4 linked regions of the Homo sapiens genome follow. The protein of the gene in region 2 interacts with the protein of the main gene of each other region in a biochemical or structural test. Each region holds a gene or a part of one and is shown on either strand. Other genes may lie near its edges. The genes, in order: CD24, SELP, AP1M1 and EZR.

Region 1 (7,235 bases), on a different chromosome or scaffold from region 2:
CCACCAGCCGCCTTGGTGGTGGCATTAGTTGGATTTGGGGCCAACCCAGAGTTGGAAGTACTCTGGGAGGAGTTACTTGAAGTTCCAGTTGTTGTTTCACTGGAATAAATCTAAAATACATAAAAAGTTACATGGATACATTTCCACATCACAGCTACCTCCATGTACTCTCATATAAAATTAAAGTAGGTGATATATTCTTAGATTGCTCTCTTACCATTGTTCTCTTACCCAACATCATTAACTTCTGAATTCTTGCTCAACCCACCAAGGTCATTCTCTTTAGTTTCAAAACAAACTACCTAGAGATGCCTCAAAAATGCCAAGTGGCAACAAGAACAAAAAAGTTATTCAATAACTATAACTCCTGTTTTTATTTCTTTGCAAAGGAAAAAAGGACCAGGTTAACTAATTCAGTTTCCAAGATTATATTGACTTAATGGCATTGCAATAAGGTCTATTTTCCCAGAAAGGGGGAGATTTTAAAGTTGCACAAAAAAATGGGGATTTTTAAATATTGTAACTGAGACTTATGGAACTAGAATTCATTGGGTCACTGTCTATCCTGGATTTGCTAGGTAACTTTCACATACTCAATTTAATACAGCCTTGGTAACTTAGCCTTTTCCTTAAGGGGGAAATGCAGTCTTATCTTCTCCCTTGAAATTTGAAATAGTAACTCTTCTAAAAAATGGCCACAATATTTGTGTTAAATTGAAAAAGAAAATGAGTTTTTCCTTTAAGGCAGAATGACTTCAAGAAAACACCATGAAGTCGGAACGATTTCACAAAAGACAACGAGAGGTTATGGTGTTAAGTTTCACCAGCAGCAGCCTCACTGGTCGCCAAGCTCATTGCTGTGGCCAAGAACCAAGGTTCTCCCAGTGTCCCAGCGTCTGAGTGGCATCATTCACCACTGATTTTTCAAGCCACGAAATGCACAGTCCAGTAGGGCACGTGATAATCTCTCCTTTGTCATGGAACAAAGGCAGATCGGAGTTTTCAGCCCTCACTGCAAGGGAGGGTTTACAAGAGCTTCTGATTACAGGCTGGAGGGAGGACGTGGCACCAGGCAAGAGTCTGGGCCCCGTGTACATTTGGCTGCCTATTAATCCAAAGATAAAGCCCTCCTACATCAGCACCAGCTCCTTTTGTTGTAAAATCCATAAGGTCATTAAACAAATATTGACTACAGAAATGTACAAATCCTATCCAAAATAGATTAGTGACAACAACAAAAAAATCTTGATCAAGTCAAATTTATTTATCGGGCACCTACTGTGTGCAAGATTTAGTGTGTCCCATCAGGAAACGGCACTCCCAATAAAGAAAAGCATTAATATGGTAATTTACTTAAAACAGGGTGCCTGTTTTGGACACCTTGTTTGGGATCCCGCAAAGTAACCTGTTCTTTATTCATGCAATGAGTTTTACTGCAGCAGGTGATGTTTTCTTTTTAAAACCTGGTGTATCAATCTGAGGATCTAAAGATCCTCTACACCAACAAAAAAATTATGTTTATTAAACTGACACTAAACAAAATTTTCTCTCCCAAGCTAGATTTATTCGCATTATTAAAACTTCTCACTTACAATGTTGGAGGAAAAAAATCTGGTCGGAGAGAAGATGGGGCGGGGAGTGGAGGGGGCCGGTTTCTCGCAGCCGCGCCCCTCCCCCATCAAAGAATTGAGGAAGGCTCGGGAGCGCAGCGGACTGGGAGGAAGACAATAGGGTACGGTTACCCCGCCAGCGGTGGGGAAGCGCGTTCCACACTCAGGCTGCACTCCCAGGTGAGCCCGGACTTTCGATGTCTGGGGACGGAGGACGCAGCGCGCCCAACTTTGGGGGAGAAGCCCCAGTGACAGTCCTCGATTAACCCCAATCGAAGGCGCTGGAGAGCCGTCACTCCCATCCTCCAAACCCGAACTGACCCAAACAAACGTACCTTCTTCGCCCCCGCCCCCGCTAGGGTCTCCCAGGCCCAGCCCCCGGTCTCTCTCGCCGGCGCGGTGCATCCATACACCCTCGAGGCAGCGCTGCGCGGCCCCGGGTACCCGCACCCGGGGCGAGGTTCCCCGGATGGAGGATCTAGGGAGACCGCGCTGGTAGCGGCGACCCGAACAAAGCCTGGCGGGGACTCGGGACAGAATCGTCCCACCATGCTGCCTCCCCAGAACTAGCCAATCTGGGCTAAAATAACATGGGGATCCTAAGATGACAAGCGATGGACGTGAAAGGTTGCCTCGCAGAGAGCGCAGCGTCAGGAGAGGGTCCCCGCCTCGGCTTCAGCCCGGAACCGGGGTTTGTTTAAAAAGGGCCAGATAGCCGTAGCTTCTCCGGGATACCCAATCCAACTCCGAGGGTGGAGGATGGGCGTGAGCCGCCCTCCCCGAAAGGGACCGTCGCCTCTCTTTGTGTAGAGCGCGGGGAGCGCGAAGACATTCCTAGGGGAAAGCGAGTCCTCAGGGACCCAGGGACAACGTCCCCAGGGAGCCCGAGCTCTCCAGGCGCTAATCCCTGCAGGCACCTCGGGCCTCTGGGTGAAAGTGGGAAGTAGTCACCTGGCTGCCTGGGAAGGGACAGCGTGGAACCTGGGGTGGGGCAGGGTCCTCTCAGCCCGCACGCGGAGCTGCATTGTTCCCAGGGCCGTGGGAGGAGGGGGGGCAGCACGCAAGGGAATGGAAAAATGGGGTCCACATGGCCCTCTCCCCTGGTCAGCTAAGCAAGATTCTCTCCCGGTCCCTGTCCGTGGCCCGAGGCAGGAGCGCAGGACGGTCCCCCGGGACCGGGTCCATCTCCCCTGCCCCCACCCCGGGAACGGCCCTCGAGCCCCGCCGGGCGCCAGGGCCTCACCTGCGTGGGTAGGAGCAGTGCCAGCAGCAGCAGCCCCAGCCCGAGCCTGGCCACCATTGCTCTGCCCATGTCCCCTCCGTCGGTGCGCGGCGCGTCTAGCAGGATGCTGGGTGCTTGGAGAACCGCTGGCTCCGGGCGGGCGCAGGCAAGGTGGGGAGCGCGGCGAGCCGGCGAGACCTTATATACCAGGAAAGCCACAATAGCCGTGACGTGGCGCCGCCCGCCCACCCCGGCTCCCCTCCGCCGCCGCCCGCCGCCTCCCCGCCTTCCCCGCCCCGCTCCGGGTTCCCCAGCGCCCCCGCCGCCGCCGCCACTGCCACCGCCGCTCCGGCCCTCGCGGGCCGGGAGCCCCCCGGGCGGGCGCCGCTGCAGGTGGGCGGGCGCCGCCGGCTGCTGGTACCCGGCTGGTATCCCCGCGCCGGCTGCGGGCTGCGGGCAGGCTGGCACAGGCGCCCAGCGCCTCCGGCACAGGACCCGGGGCACACACGCGAGCCACACACGCCGCGCTGGGGGCCGGGCCCAAGTTTCCTTTGTTTCCCGGGACCTGCCATCTTACCCCCCAAAAGAAAAGTCCGCGCCTCCGCTGCGGCGGGGTAGCCGCCTGTCCTGGAGCAAGTGCATTGCCACTCAGACTGCAAAATGCGCCCCGGGGACCCGAGAGGGGCTGCGAATTCCAGTGCGACCGCGTGGGGGGCGGGCGCCGGGACCCCTCGGGCAGGGTTATCTCTCGGCCCGCCGCAGAGGAAAGGGGAACGCGGCGGGCGTGGCGCGGACGCGGGCCGGACGCTCACCCTGGCCGACGGGACCCGGGCGCCGCCTAGCGCGAACCCTTCCCGGCTGGTCGGCGCTCCTCGCAGGCGGTGTCCGGGTCCGGAGCGATCTGCGCGCTCGGCCCCGCGGCCGCGCCCTCCCCGAAGCCCTTGCTTTGTTCTGTGAGCGCCTCGTGTCAGCCAGGCGCAGTGAGCTCACGGGGGCGTCCCGGGTCCGCATCTTCCCAGGAGCTGGGGAGCCGCTCGCTGGGCGCAGACCCGCTGCCTGACGCTGCAAACTACAGGGTTTCGGTCCCCCGCGCTCCTGCCTGCGGCGGGCGAGGAGGAGACGGCCCACCCTGAGGGGACCCCCTCCGCGGCCCTGAAGCCCCCACCGCCCTCCCCGAGCGGCTCTGCTCCCAGGTTCTACTCGGGGGCAGGAACCTCCCCTCCTGGCGGTCCCACTACAATTCACCGTCCCTCTCGAATTCCTGGGGATACACTTTTTCGGTCTCTGTTGCCCGTCATTCGTTTAAAGAGCAGAACCGTTCGAGATAAAGGCATTTACTTATCCGTAGTTGCCATTAGGCAATTTAATGAACCGGCACAAAGAGGAGATTCGTCATCACTCTTTAGATTTTGGTGGAATACTTTTTTCCTATCCATCTTATTGTGAAAACTTTCAAGCATACAACAAAAGTTGAAGTAATTTTACTGGTGGAGTATTTTGAGTTTAAATTTTAATTGCAAGACTTAATCTTTTTATTGAAGGTTTAGCCCAAGTGTTTTTCAGTCTTTAAAGCAAACAGCAGAGACCAAACCTAGTATGGTTGTAAATTTGTTTAAATTTCAGTTTTGCAGAACACTCTCGTTAGTATTTTTGGTTCAATTTTTAATTGCAAGACTTAATACTTTTATTTAAGGTTTAGCCCAAGCATTTTTCGGTCTTTAAAGTAAACCACAGAGTAGTAAGATTCTAAATTTGTCTAAATTTCACTTTTGCGTGGCAGTCTCATTAAAACAAAGTAAGTTTCAGGGAAGCAAAGTGACAATGAAATCTGCAGTAGGTTTGTTGACTGAATAGTGACTGAATTGGTTTGTGCCTTCAAGGTCAGTCACTTTAGCTCAGTAACTTTCCAAGCACGTTTAAGATGTGCTTGGGAACACAAGAATTTCTGTCGAGCACCAGTGGACTTTCCTGTTTAACAGTGTACCACATTATATAGAAATACTTTGGCCGGGCGTGGTGGCTCACACCTATAATCCCAGCACTTTAGGAGGCTGAGGAGGGCTGATCACCTGAGGTCAGGAGTTCCAGACCAACCTGACCAACATGGTGAAACCTAAAATCTAGTCTCTACTAAAATTTAGTCTCTACTAAAAATCCAAAATTAGCCATGCATGGTTGCTCATACCTGTAATCCCAGCTACTTGGGAGGCTGAGGCAGGAGAATAGCTTGAACCTGAGAGGTGGAGGTTGCAGTGAGCAGAGATCAGGCCATTGCATTCCAGCCTGGGCAACAAGAGCAAAACTCTGTCTCAAAAAAAAAAGAAAAAAGAAATAGTCTGGCCCAGCTTCTCCATTCCTTTTCCGGGTGAAAAAAATGGACTGTTTGTGACTCAGGAGTGCCGGGTTCCAAGGCAAGGAACATACTATGTCCTCCACAAGCTGCTTGTTGAACTAACTGGTGGTATTCCTAGGATAAGACAGCCTCTAAAGACAGACTGCCAGAGTTCAAACCGTGGCTCTGCTAATTTTGCTGGAGACAAAAAGCCTCAGTTCCTTCATCTATAAAATGGAGATAATAACATCATTACTAATTAGTTATTAAAGAGTTATTGTATATATAAGTGTTAGAATACTGCCTGCCTCAGAGTAGTAGCTCTCACTTAATATTTGCTCTTCCACTGAAGGTGCCAGCAACCAGAAGGTAATTACCTTCTCTGCCACTGTGTGATACGTGAAAGAATATCAGTCTCCAAATAATTCCCAAAACTGGCAAGGCACTCAGAATCTGTGCTTTGTGAACCATTTCATCACCAGCTAATGAGACTGGATAATTCACGTAGCAAAGCCCTTCACCTCTGCCCAGGAGTTCCCCCTGGGCATCCTACCGGGGGTGTTGCCCAGGACTTTGACAACTGGAGGCCCAACACAGGTAAGATACTTCTCTTTACAGGTCTCCACCCTACCCTTTTCCTGTACAGCTAGAAACTCAAGAAAACTGCCTGATTTTTCCTTTGCAGTTCTTTTGGCTTGTGATTCTTTCTTCCTATTCTTTATCCACTTCTCCTGGTTTTTCATAGTTTGTTTGCTAATAAAACCTGAGCCACGGCTGGGTGCAGTGGCTCACGCCTATAATCCCAGCACTTTGGGAGGCCGAGGCAGGCAGATCACATGGTCAGGAGATCGAGACCATCCTGGCTAACATGATGAAACCCCGTCTCTACTAAAAATACAAAAAATTACCTGGGCATGGTGGCACACGCCTGTAGTCCCAGCTACTCGGGAGGCTGAGGCAGGAGAATCGCTTGAACCCAGAAGGCGGAGGTTGCAGTGACCCAAGATCGTGCCACTGCACTCCAGCCTGGATGACAGAGCAAGACTCTGTCTCAAAAAAAAAAAAAAAAACCTTAGCCAATAATAACTCACGCCACTAACAAATTGAGACTCTTACCAGTTATCCTGAACTTTTTGTTGAGACACATGGCCAATTTCCATTTTATAGAGAAAGTGTGGTATAGAATGATTTTGAAACAGATTGATTGCATAAATTGATGTATGTGTGGAAAGTTATAACTTTCAGTTTTCATAGCTTTCATGAGATAGTATGAAAAACTCCCTCATTTGATGCTGGTTCTCTTCTGAGAATACTGAGGGAGGAGCAATGCTTACAATTTCTTTTCTTTTTTTTTTTTTTTTGGAGACGAAGTCTTGCTCTTGTTTCCCAGGCTGGAGTGCAATGGCACGATCTCGGCTCACTGCAACCTCTGCCTCCCAGGTTCAAGCGATTCTCCTGCCTCAGCCTCCCAAGTAGCTGGGATTACAGGTGCCTGCCACCATGCCTGGCTAATTTTTATATTTTTTTAGTAGAGACAGGGTTTCACCATGTTGACCAGGCTGGTCTCGAACTCCTGGCCTCAGGTGATCCGCCCGCCTCAGTCTCCCAAAGTGCTGGGATTGCATGCATGAGCCACCGTGCCCGGAAAATGCCTACAATTTCTAAGGGCAGACCTGAGACCAGACTGGCATAGCACATAGTGGATTCTGGGGTCAAATATGGATTTGAATCCTGCACCACCACTTTCTCTTTTTTTTTTTTTTTTTTTGTAGACAGGGCCTCACTCCGTCACTCAGGACGGAGTGCAGTGGCTCATTGCAACCTTCACTTCCCTGGTTCAAGCCATTCTCCTGTCTTAGCCTCCCGAGAGACTATGTCTTGCCTACCCAATATCCACTGCACCTGGCATGCAATCAGTCCTTGCTGGTTGAATGGACTAATATTAAGGAAACAGGTTAATTTGCTTTTTAAGATAAAATAGTAAATCCTGTTTCTAGAGGAACAGAAGACACAGGGGTTAATTATTTGACATTTTTAGCACTTTTGGCAAAATAGGTATGAAATATAATGT
Region 2 (7,025 bases):
TTGAACCCGGGAGGCGGAGGTTGCAGTGAGCGGAGATCACACCACTGCACTCTATCCGGGGCGACAGTGCAAGACTCCGTCTCAAAAAAACAACAAAAAATGTTTTTGGGCATCTAAGTTCTAGTGATGCTCATCTTGTCCGACTTCCTCATGTTGCACATGAAAATACTGAAGCTTGGGGCATCTAAATAACACGTTCAGAATGACAGTAGCAGAGCTTGACTTTGAAACAAGAAAGAGCTCTTTCCACTGTACTTTTTTTTTTTTTTTTTTTTAACCTTCATTAACCTCCAGGCTTCTAAATCCCATGCTGCATTGCTGTTTTGGATGATAAAGCATGCGACATGACCAAGCCTAGCTGCTACATCAGTTCCCCTCTAAAGCCACTCAACATTACTATCAACATAAAAACAGTGCATTTGCTATGCATTTGCAGTTTTGTCACTATCCCAGCCAGACTGCTACCTAAAACCTTTCCTGTAAAGAAATCTCAAATTGCCTCAGACCACAATTTGGTCTGTGACAATTTGCTGCGAGGTTATGTGTGTGTTCGTGTGTCATGCCCCAGTGATGGATGATGTAGCGTGCATGGGACGGTGTGCGGTTGTGTGTATGTTCGTGTGTCATGCCCCAGTGATGGATGATGTAGGGTGCATGGGACGGTGTGGGGTTGTGTGTGTGTGTGTGTGTGTGTGTGTGTGTGTATGTGTCATGCCACAGTGATGGATGATGTAGGCTGCATGGGACTGTGTGGAGTTGTGTATGTATGCGTGTGTCATGCCCCAGTGATGGATGATGTAGGGTGCATGGGACAGTGTGGGGTTCTGTGTGTGTGTGTGTGTGTGTGTGTGTGTGTCATGCCACAGTGATGGATAATGTAGGGTGGATGGGACAGTGTGGGGTTCTGTGTGTATGTGTGTGTCATGCCACAGTGACGGATGATGTAGGGTGCATGGGATGGTGTGGAGTTGTGTGTGTGTGTGTGTGTGTGTGTGTCACACCCCAGTGATGAGATGTAGGGTGCATGGGACTGTGTGGGGTTGTGTGTGTGTTCGTGTGTCATGCCCCAGTGATGGATGATGTAGGGTGCATGGGATGGTGTGGAGTTGTGTGTGTGTGTGTTTGTGTCACACCCCAGTGATGGATGATGTAGGGTGCATGGGACTGTGTGGTGTTGTGTGTGTGTTCATGTATCATGTCCTGGTGATGGATGATGTAGGGTGCATGGGACAGTGTGGGATTGTGTGTATGTGTGTGTCACACCCAGTGATGGATGATGTAGGGTGCATGGGACAGTGTGAGGTTGTGTGTGTGTGTGTGTGTGTGTGTGTGTGTGTGTCACGCCCAGTGATGGATTATGTAGGGTGCATGGGACAGTGTGGGGTTGTGTATGTGTCACGCCCAGTAGGGTGCATGGGACAGTGTGGGGTCATGTGTGTGCATGTGTTCATGCACTTTTGACTACAGCCTGACCAGATACCAGGGAGAACTCAACTCAAACCAGTTAATGTGTCCCAGAGAGTAGAGTTATCTCATAAGCCTAGAACTTTTCATCTGGGAGCTTCTGAATCTTGACTTTGGTAAGTAGGCATATTTTGTGTTCTTATAAGCTGCTGATCTCTGCAGGACCTATGATTAAACACTGAGAGTATCATAACGTTATGATTTACAGCTGTTTATTTGCACAAAATGCAGAGTGATCGATAACCCTTTGGTGCGAACCTAACCCCACTGCTTTCTCTGAATTGTGTTGTGTCACAAGCTGTTCTTCCTATCACATTTCAAAATGCACCATTCCAAATGCTGAAGTGGAATTCTTCAAACCAGGATAAGGCTGACTTCCCAAGGGGTTCACAAGCAAAGAGAGTGTTAATTAAATCTGTATTCAGATTCTCAACTTTCACATATATACTTTCTTAAAAACAATCTGCCTAAAATACACCTTTCTCCCACTTTATAAGAGAAAAATTATACCTTTTACTAATTTCTTATTTATTCCAGAGCTTTGCCTTTGGATATAAATACATTCGTATGCCAGAGATGATTCGAAATATTGGTATAGGTATTAAGAATTTGAATATTGTAAATGATATTGCAGCAAATCCGTTTTCAAGTCTAGTGATTTCCATTTATTTCCTTTCATCAGCTTTGAGGGAGCACCCGATTAAGTTGTCAAGTCTGACTAAATTTTGATAGTAAATCACTATATAATTTGGGGCATATAACTTGGAAGGACTTCAAGGAATTGAGACATTGCTATAATAAAACTTCTAATTCCATTTACTTATTCATATGAATGAAGTTTCTCAATGTTTAAATCCTTGAAAATGAAATATGGGAATAATATTGATGCCAAACTTGTCTAATTTTGTTGATAAGTAATATTCATTCATGGATATATGAACAAATGAGGGAAAGCTCCTCCTGTCTTAGAGATGAATCTTTAATAGCAATTTAAATATAAAGGTTTAAGTTACTTGTCAAAACTTGCAGTATATTTACTTTATTTAATTGTGTACTGAAAGTAGTTGTCATGCTAACTCAATAGAAAAGAAAAACATTTTAACACATAGAGACTTACAGTTGTAGAAAATTGAAATTTTATATTTTTATTTTGCAAAGAAGTATAATAATCAAGAAAATACTTTAAGCTTAAAATGTGTAATCTTAGGCTAAATACTGTAGAAGTGGGATAGAAATAACTATTCAAGGAGAGAAAAATGAATAATATAAAATTTCTTAAGAGCCTGCTTGTGGTCTTTTAAGTGATGAGGATTGCAGATCATGCTAGTACTTTATTCCATTGGATAAACTTTAAGAAATTATGTAACAATTTTATTTTTACAGTCTAATTTTTGTAATACACTGGAAAATCCAATCTTCTTTTGCTTTTAAAATTTGGGATAAAAAATTGTAGCTTTCCACTTAGAAAGGTGTAAGAGGTAACATAGTGTTCCAGGATATTTTTGGAGGTATAGGAGCAAAAATATTGCTGCTGAAGAGCACAACTCTGCAGCCTTCATGAAGGGGACCTGAGTGCTTGCCTTTGAACCTGGGCTTTGCTCTATTCAGACAGATTGCAGAAGGAGTGCAACGATTTTAAATTTAGTGGTACTCTTCCTGTGGAAGTGGTTTTCTCCCTGAACAGAGTATTTCTAGGGATTTCCCTGGCTTTGGGGCCAGCTCACAAGAGTGTGTAGGGCGAAGGAGTCGGTGAGGCTCCCAGTCTCCCATCACAGTGGCCAACCCTACCCACTGTTTCCTGCTTTGACTTGTTTGTTTAAACTTTTAAATAAGATTTGGTTTAAACAAAATTTCCAAAAAGAGATGTTTCCCATTTTAACCTGTTTGTTTGTTTGTTTGAACTTTTTTTAAGCAAAATTTCATCAGCAAATTCTCTACCACACAAGATAAAACAAAGTGAGAGAGAGCGAGACAACTTGTTTTAAACATTTGAAGGTTTTAGAGGACTGGTACAGTGCTTTTGATGAAGGCACAACATCTAAGAAAGGAAAATGCAAGTCAGTGTGCATCCCCTGCTTTAATCTGACATACTTTTCTGTTTCTATGCATCACCAAATACCAAGATTCACCTCTTACAGGTTATTTCAGAGCTATAGGAGAACATAAAGGTCACTTCCAAGCCAACTTAGCATTTATCTGCTGTTCTGCAGGAAGTCTTTCAGACTTCGAATGCCTAAGATGGGGCAGCCACCACTCCCCACCACTGAGACTCAGTGAGCGTAAATGATTTGCCCAAGCTTGCTCACATGAATGTGCATAGGGTTAACACAGTTATTCTTATTCTTCCAGGGCTTATGAATTTTGAAAATCTGATAAAAGCCGTGGTCAGATTTCTTCAAAACAAATGCATGCTTGCAGTAGTTTAGAGAATCTCAGATGGTTCATGACCTACTAAGTCTGTCCATGTTTAATGTGGCCCAAGTTCAAGATTCTGTGTTAACTGTAAGGCAACTGATAGGGATTTTGTGTGGAGGTATGGAGAATGGATGATGTTTAAAAATCTTCTTTGAGTAACAGTTTTCCTCTGAAACCTGCTTGGGGTGGGCAGGCCTTCTCATACCTGCTCCTACTCTGCATTATAGTCTGCAGGATGCTGCTCTGTCCTGTGTTACTAAGCAAGTTAAATACTAAAACAAGAGGAAATTCCTCTCTAGAAGCATCCACATGCTCTGCTAGTCTTTAATGTTCTCTGGAAGGCTGGTTCAACTGGAAGTTGCTGGAAAGGAGTCAGAGACTGGGTCATTAGAATAACATCCTGTGCCTGTGTAAGCCTTCATTAAGTACCATGATTATCTTTAATTTTACTTTAATAAAGAACTGGGCTGGTGCAGTGGCTCATGCCTCTAATCCCAGCACTTTGGGAGGCCAAGGTGGGCAGATCACTTGAGGTCAGGAGTTCGAGAACAGCCTGGCAACATGGTAAAACCTCGTCTCTACTAAAAATGCAAAAATTAGCCAGGCATAGTGGCACATGTCTGTAGTCCCAGCTACTTGGGAGGCTGAGGCAGGAGAATCGCTTGAACCCAGAAGGCAGAGGTGGCAGTGAGCCGAGACACTCCAGCCTTGGCAACAGAGTGAGACTCTTTCTCAAAAAACAAAACAAACAAACAAGCAAAAAAACTAATAATGATTGCAGGGTGAAGAGAAAAGCAGAGAGAAAGTGGAAGAAGCAAATGCCTTGACCTAACTTTTCACACAAGGAGGTACCAGAGGCTAGTAGGTGTCCCATGGCTTGCCACGTTCCAGGTGGCTTACAAAGTTGGCAAGAATAGTGCCACAGAAAGGAGATCTTGTTCTTTTTGTCTACATTGTAGACCACAGCTTTGTGCTTTTAGAAAGGCGGAATCAAACAATGTCCCTCCCTTGACCCTTTGTCCTCCTGCCCACATCTGCCTGTTTCTCTCCTTCCTCTTATAGCTAAACTTTCTTAACTTCCTTGCCTCCCCCTTACTCTCCAGCCCACTGCCCGACCATCCTATCAAAGTGTCCCTGCAAACTTCATTGCTGACATCCTCATTACCAAACCAAATGAAGACTTTCCACCCTTATCTTCCTTGACCTTTCTGTAGCAGTAAATACCACTACTTCCTTTTGCCTAAAATGCTTCCCTTAGCTCTTCTGTTGTTCTTCTGCTCTAATGTTTGAGAAACTTTTCTGAGTCTTCTTCTGAATCTACCTCAATCCTCTGCCTTCCCTTGCAGAGGTAAGTGTTTCTCTAGGTTCCCACCTCCATGGCCCTATTCTCTTCTCATTCTTCTGCTTTCCTGGGAAGTAAAGATGACCTCCTTATGGTCATCTGTTTCCAATGTCCTCTAATCAGCATCTCCGTTTCTGAATATTCTCTTGAGCAGGAGGTCCACAATTTAAATGCGCAACAAACATGTGAGCATACAGCTGAGGAAGCTACTGACAGAGGCTTCTCAAGGGCAAGGACTATTACTTACTCAGGTCTGAATCCCCAGCCATGGTAGGGCACATACTCAATACTCAATAAACATTTTATGGATAAATATATGAATGAATAATGGCAGAGGAATAACTGAAAGTAAGACAAAAATATGCTAAATAAGAAAATGTTGGAAAAATACATAATAATTATAACTGAATGCATTACTTTTACAGTAGTGATAATAGCTAAGTGAACAAATAAAATGGTGAAAACAGACATAATTCCAGTCCTCATAGAATGCACATTCTATTGGTAGAGAAGACAATGAAACAAATACTAATAACTACACAACAGTACTAAACAAGTAAACATGAAAAATATTAACAGAATATAGCCATAAGTGCTAGGTAGGAAATGAAACTTATGTGATAGAATGACTGTGTCACTATGTTGGTCAGGAACGTCAGGGAAGACCTCTTTAATGAGATAATGTTTAAGTGGAGAGAAGAATGACTGCAAGAAACCAGCCAGTGAGAAGCAGGAAGAAGAGCATTAAAGGAAGAAGAAAAAGCTATTTCAAAGGCCTTAAGGTGGAAGCAAACTGCAGTGTGTTCAAAGAACATGAAGACATTAGTGTGGCCAGAATGGAATGAGCAATGGAGAGAAAAATACGAGCCGGGGGTAGTGACAGATCACATCGGGCTTTGGGATCCAAAACAAGGGGATGAGATTTTATTCTAAGTGCAATGATAAGCCAACGGAAGCTGGGCACGGTGGCTCACATCTGTAATCCCAACACTTTATGAGGCCAAGGCAGGCAGATCCCTTGAGGTCAGAAGTTCAAGACCAGCCTTGCCAACATGGCGAAACCAACTCCACTAAAAAATACAAAAATTAGCTGGGCATGGTGGCGCATGCCTGTAATCCCAGCTACTCAGAAGGCTGAGACAGGAGAATCGCTTGAACCCAGGAGACAGAGGTTGCAGTGAGCTGAGATGGCACTACTGCACTCCAGCCTGCTGAAGATTGGGAGATCCTAGAGGTTAACTGAAAAGGTAGTTTGAGACCATATCTTGTGGGTCACAAATACCAGTTGGCAGAAGGGATACTTCTGAACAGAGAAGTATCATGAACACATGCACTTAATGGTGGTATGATTTTTTTTGTGGGGCTGGGGGACAGGGTCTTGCTCTGTTGCCCAGGCTGAAGTGCAGTGGCATGATCTGGGTTCACTGAAACCTCCACCTCCTGGCCTCAAGTGATCTTCCCATCTCAGCCTCCTGAGTAACTGGGACTACAGGCATGCATCACCACACCCGGCTAATTTTTTGTAGAGATAAGTTCTCACTATATTGCCCAGGCTGGCCTGGAGCCCCTGGGCTCAAGCAATACTTTTTCTTTGGCCTCCAAAAATGCTGATATTATAGGGGTGAGAGTAGTGCGATACTTTTTTTTTTTTAAATGAGTTACAATCAGGGAGATTGCACTGCAAAAGAAGAGGCTATTGCAATGGTCCCAGTGAGAGTTAAAGAGGGACAGGTTTGGTCTGGCATCAGTGGGAATGCAAATAGGGGAGGTGAATATGAGAGTTGTTGAGGATGCAGAACTATAC
Region 3 (7,025 bases), on a different chromosome or scaffold from region 2:
ACATTAGCCGGGTGTGGTGGTACCTGCCTATAGTCCCAGCCAATTGGTAGGCTGAGGCCAGAGAATAGCTTGTGCCAGGGAGGTAGAGGTTGCAGTGAGCCATGATCATGCCACTGCACTCCAGCCTGAGCAACAGAATGAGACCCTGTCTCAAAAAAAAAGAAGAATAAAAAAGATCCTTTCAGACAAGCAAATGCTGAGGGAATTTGTTTACCAGCAGACCTGCTGTACAAGAGCTCCTGAAAGAAGTACTAAATATGAAAAGAAGGCCGGGTGTGGTGGCTCATGCCTGTAATCCCAGCACTTTGGGAGGCTGAGGCAGGCGAATCACCTGAGGTGTGGAGTTCGACACCAGTCTGGCCAACATGGTGTAACTCCATATCTACTAAAAATACAAAAATTAGCCGGTCATGGTGGTGGGTACCTGTAATCCCAGCTACTCGGGAGGCTAAGGCAGGAGAATTGCTTGAGCCAGGGAGGCAGAGGTTGCAGTGAGCAGAGATCATGCCATTGCACTCCAGCCTGGGTGACAGGGCAAGACTCCATCTCAAAAAAAAAAAAAGGCCGGGTGCAGTGGCTCACGCCTGTAATCCCAGCACTTTGGGAGGCCAAGGCAGGTGGATCACGAGGTCAGGTCAGGAGATCGAGACCATCCTGGCTAACATGGTGAAACTCTGTCTCTACTAAAAATACCAAAAAAAAATTAGCTGGGCATGGTGGCATACGCCTGTAGTCCCAGCTACTCGGGAGGCTGAGGCAGGAGAATCACTTGAACCTGGGAGGCAGAGGTTGCAGTGAGCCAAGATCACGCCATGGCACTCCAGCCTGGGCTACCCAGTGAGACTTTGTCTCAAAAAAAAAAAAAAGAAAAAGGAAAGAAAAGGCCATTACTAGCCACTACAAAAACACATTTAAGTACACAGACAAGTAACACTATAAAGCAACCACACAAACAAGTCAGCATAATAAACAGCTAACAACACAATGACAGGATCAAATACATGCATATCAATACTAACCTTGAATGTAAATGGGCTAAATGCCCCAATTAAAAGGCATAGAGTGGCAAGAGCTGGATAAAGAAATAAGACCAAATGATATGCTCCCTTTAAGACACCATTCTTGGCTGGGTGCAGTGGCTCATGCCTGTAATATCCCAGCACTTTGGGAGGCCGAGGCGAGTGGATCACTTGAGGTCAGGAGTTCGAGACCAGCCTGGCCAACATGGTGAAACCTCGTCTCTACTAAAAATAGAAAACCGCCAGGCGTGGTGGCGCGTGCCTGTAATCCCAACTATTTGGGAGGCTGAGGCAGGAGAATTGCTTGAACCTGGGGGACAGAGGTTGCAGTGAGCCGAGATTGCGCCACTGCACTCCAGCCTGGGCAACACAGCAAGACTCTGTCTCAAAAGAAAAAAAAAAGACCCATCTCAGATGCAATAACACCCACAGACTCAAAATGAAGAAATGGAGAAAAATCTACCAAGCAAATAGAAAACAGACAAAAGCAGAGTTGCAATCTTAATTTCAGACAAAACAGACTTTAAGCCAACAAAGATCAAAAAAAGACAAAGAAGTGCATTGCATAATGGTAAGGTATTCAATTCAACAAGATCTAACTAACCTAAATAAATATGCAGCCAACAGCAGCACTCAGATTCATAAAGCAAGTTCTTAGAGACCTACAAAGAGACTTAGACTCCCACACAATAACAGTGGGAGATTTCAACACCCCACTGACAGTATTAGACAGATCACTGGGGCAGAAAATTATCAAAGATATCCAGGACCTTAACTCAGCACTGGATCAACTGGACCTGATAGATATCTACAGAACTCTCCACCCAAAAACGAGAGAATATATCTCATCTGTACATGGTACATACTCTAAAAACCACCACACAATTGGACATAAAATAATCCTCAGCAGATGCAAAAGAACCAAAAGCATACCAGCCACTCTCTCAGACCACAAATCAATAAAAATAGAATTCAAAACTAAGAAAATCACTCAAACCCATACAATTACATGGAAATTAAACAACCTGCTCCCAAATTACTTTTGGGTAAATAATGAAATTAAGGCAGAAGTCAAGAAATTATTTGAAACAAATAAGAACAAAGATACAACAGACCAGAATCTCTGGGACACGGCTAGGGCAGTGTTAAGAGAAATTTACAGCACTACATGCCCACATCAAAAAGTTAGAAAGATCTCAAATTAACAACCTAACATCACAACTAAAAGAACTCACGAAGCAAAAGCCTCCAACTCCAAAGCTAGCAGAAGACAAGAAATAACCAAAGTCACAGCTGAACTCTAGAAGACTGAGACACAAAAACACCATTCAAAACATCAAGTAAGCCAGGAGCTGGTGTTTTAAAAGAATGAATAAGATAGATAGGCTGCTAGCTAGACTATTAAGAAAAGAGAGAAAACCCAAATAAACACAATTAGAAATGACAAAGGGGATATTACCATTGACCCCACAGAACTACAAATAACCCTTAGAGACTATTATTAACACTTCTATGCACACTAACTAGAAAATCTAGAAGAAATGGATAATCTCCCGGACACATATACCCTTCCAAGATGGAACCAGGGAGAAACTGAATCCCTGAACAGACCAATAATGAGCTCCAAAATTGCATCAGTAATAAATAGCCTAACAACCAAAAAAAACCTGGACCAGACGGACTCACAGCTGAATTCTATCAGACGTACAAAGAAGAGCTGGTACCATTCCTACTGAAATGATTCCAAAAAAACGGAGGAGGAGGGACTCCTCCCCTACTCATTCTATGAGGCCAGCATCATCCTGATACCAAAACCTGGCAGAGATACAACAAAAAAAGAAAACTTCAGGCCAATATCCTTGATGAACATTGATGCAAAAATCCTCAACAAAATACTAGTAAACTGAATCCAGCAGTACATCAAAAAGCTAATCCGCCACAATCAAGAAGGCTTTTATCCCTGGGATGCAAGGTTGGTTCAATACATGCAAATCAATAAACATGATTCATCACATAAATAGAACTAAAGACAGAAACTACATGATCATCTCAATAGGTGCAGAAAAGGCTTTTGATAAAATTCAACATCTCTTCATGTTAAAAACTCTCAACAAACTGGAGTTTTTTGGTTTTGTTTTTTGTTTTTTTTTGAAACAGGGTCTTGCTCTGTCGCCCAGGCTGGAGTGCGGTGGCACAATCTGGACTCACTGCAACCTCTACCTCTGGGGCTCAAGTGATCCTCCCACCTCAGCCACCCGAGTAGCTGGGATTACAGGCGCGCATCACCACGCCCGGCTAATTTTCCTATTTTTAGTAGAGCGGGAGCTACCATGCCCAGCCAACTAACTAGGTTTTGAAGGAACATACCTAAAATAATAAGAGCCATCTATGACAAATCCATAGCCAACATCATACTGAATGGGCAAAAGCTGAAAGCGTTCCCCCTGAAAACTGGCACAAGACAAAGATGCCCTCTCTCACCACTCCTATTCAATATAGTATTGGGGGCTGGGCATGGTGGCCGACGCCTGTAATCCCAACACTTAGGGAGGCCGAGGAAGGCAGATCACCTGAGGTCAGGAGTTCGATACCACCCTGACCAACATAGTGAAACCCTGTCTCGACTAAAAATACAAAAATTAGCCGGGCATGGTGGCATGCGTCTGTAATCCCAGCTACTTGGGAGGCTGAGGCTGGAGAAGCACTTGAAGCCCGGAGGTGGAGGTTGCACTGAGCCAAGCATGCCACTTGTACTACAGCCTGGGCTACAAAGTGAGACTCTGTCGAAAAAAAAAAAACACTGCTAAGAGAATAAAAAGATAAGCTACAGACTGGGGGAAAATACTTGCAAATCACCTATCTGACAGAGGACTTCTATCTGGAACACACAAAGAACTATCAAGGCTCAACTATATGAAAATAACCCAATTTAAAAATGCTAAAAAGATGCACAGAGACATTTCTCCAAAGAGGATATACAGATGACAAAGAAACATGTAAAGCAATGCTCAACATTATTAGCCATTAAGAAAATGGAATAGGCCAGGCGTGGTAGCTCACACCTGTAATCCCAGCACTTTGGGAGGCAGAGGCGGGTGGATCATCTGAGGTCAGGAGTTCGAGACCAGCCTGGCCAACATGGTGAAACCCCGTCTCTAGTAAAAATACAAAAATGAGCCAGGCCTGGTGGTGGGTGCCTGTAATCCCAGCTACTCGGGAGGCTGAGGCAGGAGAATCGCTTAAGCCTGGGAGGCAGAGGTTGCAGTGAATGGAGATAGTGCCATTGCACTCCAGCCTGGGCGACAAGAGCGAGACTGTGTCTCAAAAACAAAAACAAAAACAAAACACAAAACTGTGCTGACATACTACTACATACCTATTAGGATGACAAAAATAAAACTACTGACAAAGGATGTGGGGTCATCACAACCCTCATCTGTTGCTGGCGAGAATGCAAAACAGCAATGGTTTGGCAGTTTCTTATAAAGGTAAACATACACTTACCGTGTGACCCAGCCATCCCACTCCTGGGTATTTACCCTAGAGAGATGAAAACTTATGTCCACACATAAACCTGGACACGACATGTTTCTAGCAACTCTATTGACAATTGCCAAAGATTGGAAAACCACCCAAATGTCCTTCTGTGGTTCAGAACAGAAAATAAATATAAATAAATATAAAAGGGAACAGACTTTTGATATGCAAAACAATTGGATTTGGATGAATCGCAAAGAATTAGAATGAGTTAAAGCAGCCAGACTCGAGAGCTCATGACTGTATGACGCCATTCATACGACAATCTCAGAAAGACAGCTGCGGTGACATATGATGCCACTCGTGTGACAATCACAACACGATGAAGACTCCAGTGATGGAGAACAGTTCAATGGTGGCCAGGAAATGGGGAAGAGGGGAGCATGGAGCTACAAAGGGGCAACATGAGGAGGTTTTGAGGTTCTGTGTCCTGGGTGTGGTGATGGGTACACAAATCTGTACAAGCGCTAAAATTCATTTTCAAAACGTCAACTTTCCTCATAATTAAAAAACCAAAAGAAAAAAATATACAAAACAGTAACACTGAACGCAAAATCAAAACCCAAACAACAACCACCACCAAAAAAACAAGCTGCAGGAGAACCACATCTTATGATCTCAGGTTTATAGAAAAATCAATATACTTGTTTCTGTCTGTCTACAGAATGAGGCCCGAGAGGGTGACGGTGAATAAATCCTAATCTTTCTGATTATAGGAGCCCTTTAGTTTCTTTTTTTTTTTTCTGTGCATGGTGACTGATAAGAGCCCTTCACTTTCTAACCTCATACCCTGCTTCTAATTTTTAAAAATAATGTGCATGTATGGATTCTCAGTCAGCATAAATGCTAATAAAGAAAACAAGCTTTAGCCGAGCGTGGTGGCGGGTGCCTATAATCCCGGCTACACGGGAGGCTGAGGCAGGAGAATCGCCTGAACCTGGGAGGCGGAGGTTGCAGTGAGCCGAGATCGTGTCACCACACTCTAGCCTGGGCGACAGAATGAGATTCCGTCTCAAAAAAAAAAGATAAGACAAACTCACATTTCAATGAGTGGCCCAAACTGAATCCTGCTATCTGTTACCACACAGAACGGCTCTCGGGGCTTTGCCAGTTTTAAAATGCTGTGTTTATTTCTATCGTGGAAGAGATAAAACCCTACAGAAGAAGGAAAGAAAAGAGGCCTACCAAGAGGTTGACAGACTCGATGACGTCCAAGAACACCTCATTCTTCCGATACTTGATGCCTTCGGACCGCCAGGACACCGCGTTGGTGACGGTGGCTGGTGGCCGCGGGGCCCCTGTTTCCAGCTTGTGGCCTTCCTGAGTGATGTACCTGTGGGGCCACACGCTCAGAGTGAAGGAGGTGGTACCCGCACCAACGCCACAGCTTCTGGCCTTGACATTTCGGCAGGGTTGGGTGGGGGGTACAGGGCAGGTTCTGACCGACTTGAAAATAGCCCTTGGATTTCAGCAGCTCCAGAAAAGGCAGCCTCTGGTTCACCTGGGGCTGCTTCATACAGAAAAATCTTCACAATTTCCAAAAGCCAATACACTCAAGTTATAGAGGCTGAAGTGCTCATTTTGGGGGACCAAGAAGACCATGTTGGGAAGGAAAACAAGAAGTGGGTGTGAGCTGCTTCCCGTCCCTGCTGAGCACGTGGATGGAACTGACGCCTCGGAGTGTAACCTGGTGACCCCATCCTGCTGAAGGAGCAGGAGGTGCAGCGGTTAGGAACACAGGCTTCTCTGGGAGTCTGCTTGCTTGTCCCCTGTAAAATGGGGAGACGGTATACGGGGAGGCTGTGAATCGAGTGAATGTGAAGTGCTGGGGCCCGGCCCCCAGGAAGCACTTAATTCACATTGCTTCTTATCTGAAGGGCAGGATTCCAAAGAGGGGAGATTTCGATCACAGTCTCATTTTATGACAGTAAAAACAAGGGAGGTGACTCCTTAGTAGCAAGGTACTGAAGGCATCTGTGTGGATGGAGAGTAAAGATGAGGAGCAGGAAAAGCACGGTTATGTGGGGGCGTAGAGGAGGAAACGAATTAAAACCACTAAGAGCAACTTAGTAAAAACCCGAATACTGCTGGAGGTGGGAGGCAGGTGGGGGACAACATGAACACAAATTTGCCCCTTCTGTTTCCACACCTGATGACGTCGATGTCATGACACCGCCCAGGCCTGGCCCCAGGCCCCACCCCTGCCCACTCACTCCTGCAGGATCTTGCTGTCGGTGGTCTGGGGGTAGCCGAAGTCCATGAGCTCGTCCAGCAGCTCGTAGATGATAACAAAGTTGTCCCGGATGCTCTCCTCCTCCAGCTCCTTGAAGTACTCGGAAAACACCTGTGGCGGTTGGGGAGGGAGGGAGGAATGGGAGGCAGATCATTGAGCGGACGGATGAGGAATGAATGAACGCTTGCACACATTCATTTGCCCGCTAAGTCCTACCAACAGCCTACTTCCCAGGC
Region 4 (7,025 bases), on a different chromosome or scaffold from region 2:
TGAGCCACCACGCTCAGCTTGCAGCCTTCCCCCATCCCTTTTGGGTGAGTGGGAAGAGGGGGAAGAACAGGTCAGTCCTGGGCATTTAATAAACAGACTTCTAGAGCTTTAGGGAGCCTCTGGCCTCCCTGCACCCTTCAGATGAAGAAACAGGCCCAGATCAGGAGTTAATTTGGAATTTTAGGATTTACTTTAAGCAAATGCTCTGTATACCTGAGTTGTCATTTCTAATGTATTCAACCCTCTTTGGCATTAAATATGATAGAAGCCATGTATTTGAAGGATGGTAGCATTTTTTAAAGTTTAACATTATATATCATGGGATTTTAAATTAGACATCTATGTATATGTAAATAGTCGAACTTGTCTGGGACTCGGTTTAGATGATGTTCAACAAATGTCCACAGCAAGTTCGACTATCACTGCTTTTCTGTTTACAAGACAGTCGTGAGACTAAGCAGCTCAGGACTCCTGTAATGCACAACAGAGGCTTGAAAATGTGAAATCTTTGCTGTGACCTAGGGTCGGGATTCTACCTTTGCTGTATCAGAATGTCCCATTTCTGGAGGTCTATAAGATGCAGGTTCCTCTGGGCACCCCTGTGCATTGACACCCTTCCGTCCCAGAAGTCTGCCTTGCCTGTTTTCCTGCCTTTCCTAGGATTTCTTTGTCCCTGTTCCTAGTAAGTCAGACCCCTGGGCCAGCTGGCTGAGAGGCAGAGGCAGGCAGCCAGAGGAGGCTCAGGTGTGGCACTGGATGCTTTAGTCTTCTGCATGAGCACACCTGACCGGCAGCGATGCACCCACCGCACTGTTCCCTGGGGGGCTGTGGGCTCCCATGGTTCTGTGTGTGCTGGCCATAACCCGCCCTGCTGAGTTTCATGCAGGAGAGCATCCTGGAGTACAAAGGAGTAGGAGTGAGATTTTCTAAGATTTGAAGGTAGAACCCTGAATCTGCTCAAATTTATATTAAAAATAAGTCGTTCATGGCTTTGAGATAATAGCCTCAGTTAGTAACAAGTTATTTGAGTGCAAAAAAAGATGTTGCCCAGTGGTTGGACTGAGCAGATGTCCTGGTTTCCTGGGGACTCTGCTAGACCATGTGATGAACGACAGCCAAAAGCTGTTGCCCTTTTGAGTGAGTTTCTCATGAGTGTTGAGCCTCTCTCTCTCTCACGCAGGTGGTAAAGACTATCGGCCTCCGGGAAGTGTGGTACTTTGGCCTCCACTATGTGGATAATAAAGGATTTCCTACCTGGCTGAAGCTGGATAAGAAGGCAAGTCAGGATTAACTATTTACAGGCTGTGGATTGGGTGTTGGTCTGCTTCATCGATAAGGAAACTGGAGCAACTCACCCTGTCTTTTGTTTTCTGTTCCTTTTTGTTTGTGTAAAAGTTTTTACAGACAAAAAGGTTGCAGGTTTCCAGTAAATGGAGATATCGATTGGAAATCAGATCTGGCATTTCTCCATAGTGCTCACTCATTGGAGCATATGATGGTTAATTGCATAGCTTTTAGTTGACCTTAGTTTTTTCAATGAGATTGTTAATCTTATAAACTGTGAATCATCCACCATCTTGTAAGAACCTGTTATTGCTTTGTTTGAACCTGTGACAGATTATCTTCCAACTTTAAAGAGTGGATAATTCCATTAACCAACCAAAAAGAAAAGTAGTAAGATAAACATTTTCTTCAAACTCTGAAAATTATCCTTTTTTTTTTTTTTGAAACCCCCACTGTCCTCCCAAGTCACAGCAACAAGTTAAAAAGATGATGGGAGGTGGGGAAGAGTGGAGGAGCAGGAGGAATTCTTAACAGTAAGTTTCGGGGTCCAGGGCCCGATTGGCATGTGGCCCCATTCCAGGTCACTGGGGTCATTTCCAAATTTGAGTTCTCCAGGATTGATAGCATCATCCCATGAGGACTGGGGCTTAGTGAGGCAGTAGCTTTGATTTCCAGCTGAGCACAAGAGTGTGATAGTACTTGTTTGTTTTTTGTTGTTGTTGTTTTGAGATGGAGTCTTGCTCTGTCGCCCAGGCTGGGGTGCAGTGGCACGATCTTGGCTCACTGCAACCTCCACCTCCTGGGTTCAAGTGATTCTCCTGCCTCAGCCTCCCAAGTAGCTGGGACTACAGCTGCATGCCATCATGCCCGGCTAATTTTTTTGTATTTTTAGTAGAGATGGGGTTTCACCATGTTGGTCAGGCTAGTCTCGAACTCCTGACCTCGTGGTCCGCCCACCTCAGCCTCCCAAAGTGCTGGGATTACAGTCGTGAGCCACCATGCCTGGCCTGTTTTTTTGTTTTTGTTTGTTTGTTGTTGTTTTTTAAGAAGAGACAGGGTCTTGCTCTGTCACCCAGGCTGGAGTGCAGTGGCGCCATCATAGCTCACTGCAGTCTCGAACTCCTGAGCTCCAGGGTTCCTCCTGCTCAGCTTCTTGAGTAACTGGGACTATAAGCATGCATCACCATCCCCAGCTAACTTTTTTTTAAAAAATGTTGTAGAGATGGGATCTCTTCTACGTTGCCCAGGCTGGTCTTAAACTCCTGGGCTCAAGTGATCCTCCTGCCTTGGCCTCCCAAAGCACTGGGATTATAGGCATGAGCCACCATGTCTGGCCTGTGGTAGCACTTTTGACTAACCTTTTTTTGTCTGGAGTGCTAAAAAGATGACTTTAAGAATAAATATCTCCTGAAAACTGGCTTGAGGGCCCCATTGAGTCTTGGTTAGAAGCCTGTGTTGGGGACAGTGGGCCTTCGTCTTCCGGATTTGTGTGGAGAGTGTGGCTTGTTTCGTGCAGGTGTCTGCCCAGGAGGTCAGGAAGGAGAATCCCCTCCAGTTCAAGTTCCGGGCCAAGTTCTACCCTGAAGATGTGGCTGAGGAGCTCATCCAGGACATCACCCAGAAACTTTTCTTCCTCCAAGTGAAGGAAGGAATCCTTAGCGATGAGATCTACTGCCCCCCTGAGACTGCCGTGCTCTTGGGGTCCTACGCTGTGCAGGCCAAGTTTGGGGACTACAACAAAGAAGTGCACAAGTCTGGGTACCTCAGCTCTGAGCGGCTGATCCCTCAAAGGTGAGCACAGGATGACCCGGCCTGGGCAGGAGCAGTCATGCCGTCCTCGGCAGGGAGAAGTGATTGCCTTAGAAGCACAGTTTAAAAACACAAGGACTTCGCCAGTGTCAAGTGCTCCTTCATGCTAGTCATTAAGTCACTGACCAGCGACCTGAAACATAGCCAGGGAAGGCGAGCTGCCATTCCTCATGGAAACTAAAGCGTGGCCGTGTCCTGTGGGACATGGCATAGCAAACTTCTCGACCTGACTGCTCAGCTCCTCCTGGGGTATGATAGGTTGCCCCTGTGAAATCTGTTTTTATTTAGTAATGGTCACAAAAATTACCCCATTTGGAAGAAGAGGCCACTTAAAATACCTCTTAGTTTTTCCAGCAGAACTGAGTTCTTGTTCAAAATGCTAAGTCTTCCAGATTAACTGTCATAAATAGAAATGCTGCACATCAGGAAATAGAAACCAAAGCTCTTTGGGATTGATTGATTTGAATGGAAAGTAAGGGTTTGAATGTGGGTGGTAAGTGGGCCTCCTTCCTTGCCTGTCACATTCCTTAAGGATGACAGTGCTGTTTCCTTTTGCATTCCAGAGTGATGGACCAGCACAAACTTACCAGGGACCAGTGGGAGGACCGGATCCAGGTGTGGCATGCGGAACACCGTGGGATGCTCAAGTGAGTGCTGTGCCCTGCTGTTGGGATCTTGCCATCTCCGTGCGCTCCAGCATGTCTTTTCCTGTGACTCTAGTTAGTGCTTTAAAGGGCTCTGTGTCAGGCCTTGTGAAGACCTTGAGGGAACCGAGTTAAAAGTGGGGTTTTCTTAGGGAAGAGGTTTTTTTTAAACAAAGCCAGGTGTCTTGCCTGGGGAAAGAAGCAGTTTAGCTCAAGCCTTCAGGTTCTAAAAGCTTACACCCTCCCTTTGTAGAAAGTGTTGTGTCTAAACTTCATCTTAGTCAGAGGGGCATTGTTCACCTGCAATCAGCATTATTCTGTCAAAGAGATGCTGGTTTGCTCATTATATGAAGGTACTTGTCTTACAAAGTGTATATAAATGAAAAAGGATCCCAAGTGAGAAATGCTGATGTCAGAGAACCTGGACGTGGGGCTGTTAATGTAAGACATGGCCGAGCCACCTGATTCTGGGTGTTCTCGTCCTAGAGCCTTGTCTCTGGCCTAGTCTTGCGAGTCTGCATTATTTCAGCCTCTGAAGTTTGTTTGAGGTTTGAGCCTCAGATTTTGTGCTTCAGGGTTTCCTGTCTGGCCCAAACATCCTTTATGGAAGGAAAACAACTCAAAGCCTATGAGGAGGGTTGTGGGAAGACATGTGTGGGCAAGAGAAAAAGGAGGATTGTGCTGAGTGATAAAACTTAAAAACCTGTTAGAGAAACCAGTGTGAATCAGTTCTTCTTCAAAGTGTGGGGTTTGGTGGTGAGGCTCCAGGGCAGCACGGACCCCACCCCAGGCATAGCTTCTGGGCTGTATGGGTCCCCTCCTCACCGGTCGGCTGCCCGGCCCCTGCCTGCCTGCACGCAGCACACAGCATTGAGCCCATCCTACACAAGGCGCCTTAATTTAAAAATACTGGAAAGGTTTTACTGTTCTAGATATTGAGTGCTACCAGTGACTCTGCCTGTTTCACTCTCCCCAATTAGAGATAATGCTATGTTGGAATACCTGAAGATTGCTCAGGACCTGGAAATGTATGGAATCAACTATTTCGAGATAAAAAACAAGAAAGGAACAGACCTTTGGCTTGGAGTTGATGCCCTTGGACTGAATATTTATGAGAAAGATGATAAGTGAGTTGAAGTTCACAGTTATCTTCAGTAGGTAGGGTGGTGGGCCTGGAAACAATGGCAAAATGGCAAATTTGTGGGTTATTTTTGAAGTATTTATTTAGCAACTTACTATCCCAAAGTAGGAAACTTTTTAAAGGGCTTTTGGACTGCTGTGGCCCTCTCAAAGGGTGGTCCAGAGGTGTGGGTTATCCTCTCTCATGGTGGGCGGGGCCGATAGTGGGCTCAGTCCTGGTAGAGGAAGGCAGAATAGAGCAGAGGCTGCCTCTCCTCCCCGCTGCCTCTGAGATTCCACCCCAGCTGCCTGCAGGTACCAGCACATCCATCCATAGCTACTTCGCAGGCAGCCCAGCCAGTGCTCGACTCCTGGCTCGAGGTTTGTGCTAATCCAACCAAGAATATTGATGGTGTGATGAGAGACTTGAAAAGCTGTAAACAATAGCCTGTACGTGTAGACACTTGAGCTAAATGCTGGGAGTCTGCAGGAGATATCTTAATTGCCTCGCATTAGTTACGTTGTTTGTTGAGTGAGGGCCTGTAAGCAAGCTGGGTAGAGCAGCAGAGCCAGGCCTCTCCACAGGGACAGGCAGTTCCGCTTTCACATACAGGGCATTTGCCTTCTTTCTGCTGAGGATAAACAGGGAAAGTCATCCTAGTTCATGAGGGCAAGTTTCCCATGGTGAGTCTGCGACATCAGCATAATCCTAGATTCTGGATTGATCTGATCAGAAGCTACCTGAATTTAAGAGGCAGAAGGAAACTACCTCTGGAAAGAGAAGGGAGAGGCTCCTGACTGCCTCCTGACTACCGTCTCTGCCCTGATTGTCCACAGTCAGCCTGATTGCTCTGCAGGGCTCCCCGAAACAAATCATCTGATGGCCACCAGGTTCAGGGGCCTGGCAGAGAAGGTGCCAGGGCAAGAATGCTCCTGGGGTCTTTTTGCCAAGCCCTGCCTTTTGGCCTGGGTTCCTGCTTTCCACGTAAAGAGCAGAGTGGCCCAGAGTTCCTGGATGTACCGGTTTCCTTCCCAGCCTCATGCTGTTCCTTGAAATGACAGCTCTCCCCATTTCCCACTTGAGGCTCACCCATCTCATCTGTTCTCAGATATTTTTGTTCTCAGCATCCCCACATCTCAGGTTCCCCCAAAACCCTCTCTGGAGTTCTCAAAGGGAGTGGTGCTGCTTTCCACAAATGACCTGCATGAGTCCATCTCCATTTGCAACCACGCGGATTCCTGCCAGACCCCAGGGCACAGATCTATTTCACTTGGGCAAGTCAGGGACCTGTGCCAGCTGTGCCCAACCTCCTCTCACCTCCGGGGCCCACGTGGTGATACTGCACAGGGAGGGAGGCAGGCGCTGTCACAGGAGCTCCTCAGAGAACCTGGAAATGAGATATTGAGGACTCTCGGTTCGCTCCTACTCCAAGTGTGCTGGATGCAGCATTGGTAAAGAAGCACGGAAAAGCCAGGCACAGCGGCTCACACCTGGAATCCCAGCACTCTGGGAGGCCGAGGCAGGCGAATCCCTTGAGCTCAGGAGTCTTGCCCAGCCTGGGGAACATGGCGAAACCCCGTCTCTACCAAAATTTAAAAAATTAGCTGGCTATGGTGGTGCACGCCTGTGGTCTCAGTCAGGTGGCTGAGGTGGGAGGATCACTTGAGCCTGGGAGGCAGAGGTTGTAGTAAGCCAAGATTGCGCCACTGCACTCTAGCCTGGGTGACAGAGCGAGACCGTGTCTCAAAAAAAATTTTAAAGAAGTGGGGAAAGTGGGTACTTGGAACCAGGACACCATCTTTCCGGGAGACCCTAGAGCTGAAGCCGTGGCTATTAAGACAGCCATGCCAAGGAGCAGTGCACAAAGTCCTCGTGGGAACGTATGTGGGAAACTGCCTCTGCCTTGGAAATCTCTTCAATGACCAGATTTTGTAACGTGGCCAGGCCAGGGCTGTCCAAACAGGTTTTTCAACCTGCAGGAAAACAGCCATGGGCAGGAACTTGCTGATGTCAGCTTGTAACTGCCCCAGCCCACGTAAGTGTCCATTTCTTCCAAGTAAAAACGTGAGCTGTGTGCCCTATTTAGTGCTGTTTTTGCGCTCTGCTCCCCCTCCCCCACCATTGAGCGATGAACGTGGCAACTCTCTCAGATGGTTCTTTCCCCACAG

The links.
Region 1: the proteins of SELP (region 2) and CD24 form a complex in vitro, tested with the Homo sapiens proteins (2 studies listed by BioGRID and IntAct).
Region 3: the proteins of SELP (region 2) and AP1M1 are reported together in a solved structure, tested with the Homo sapiens proteins (one study listed by BioGRID).
Region 4: the proteins of SELP (region 2) and EZR form a complex in vitro, tested with the Homo sapiens proteins (one study listed by BioGRID).

Annotation. Positions count from the first base shown.
Region 1 is NC_000006.12:106,971,725-106,978,959, forward strand, and holds the start of CD24 (signal transducer CD24 isoform a preproprotein), read right to left. Parts: upstream 3,006-7,235; 5' UTR 2,923-3,005; coding exon 2,854-2,922; intron 2,316-2,853; exon of another isoform or gene 2,162-2,315; coding exon of another isoform or gene 1,946-2,161; intron 111-1,945; coding exon 1-110.
Region 2 is NC_000001.11:169,620,125-169,627,149, forward strand, and holds part of SELP (P-selectin precursor), read right to left. Parts: intron 1-7,025. UniProt on the Homo sapiens protein: Ca(2+)-dependent receptor for myeloid cells that binds to carbohydrates on neutrophils and monocytes. Mediates the interaction of activated endothelial cells or platelets with leukocytes. The ligand recognized is sialyl-Lewis X.
Region 3 is NC_000019.10:16,207,894-16,214,918, reverse strand, and holds part of AP1M1 (AP-1 complex subunit mu-1), read right to left. Parts: intron 6,901-7,025; coding exon 6,770-6,900; intron 5,890-6,769; coding exon 5,742-5,889; intron 4,560-5,741; coding exon of another isoform or gene 4,524-4,559; intron 1-4,523. UniProt on the Homo sapiens protein: Subunit of clathrin-associated adaptor protein complex 1 that plays a role in protein sorting in the trans-Golgi network (TGN) and endosomes.
Region 4 is NC_000006.12:158,781,359-158,788,383, reverse strand, and holds part of EZR (ezrin), read left to right. Parts: intron 1-1,180; coding exon 1,181-1,276; intron 1,277-2,800; coding exon 2,801-3,075; intron 3,076-3,656; coding exon 3,657-3,740; intron 3,741-4,717; coding exon 4,718-4,864; intron 4,865-7,025. UniProt on the Homo sapiens protein: Probably involved in connections of major cytoskeletal structures to the plasma membrane. In epithelial cells, required for the formation of microvilli and membrane ruffles on the apical pole. Along with PLEKHG6, required for normal macropinocytosis.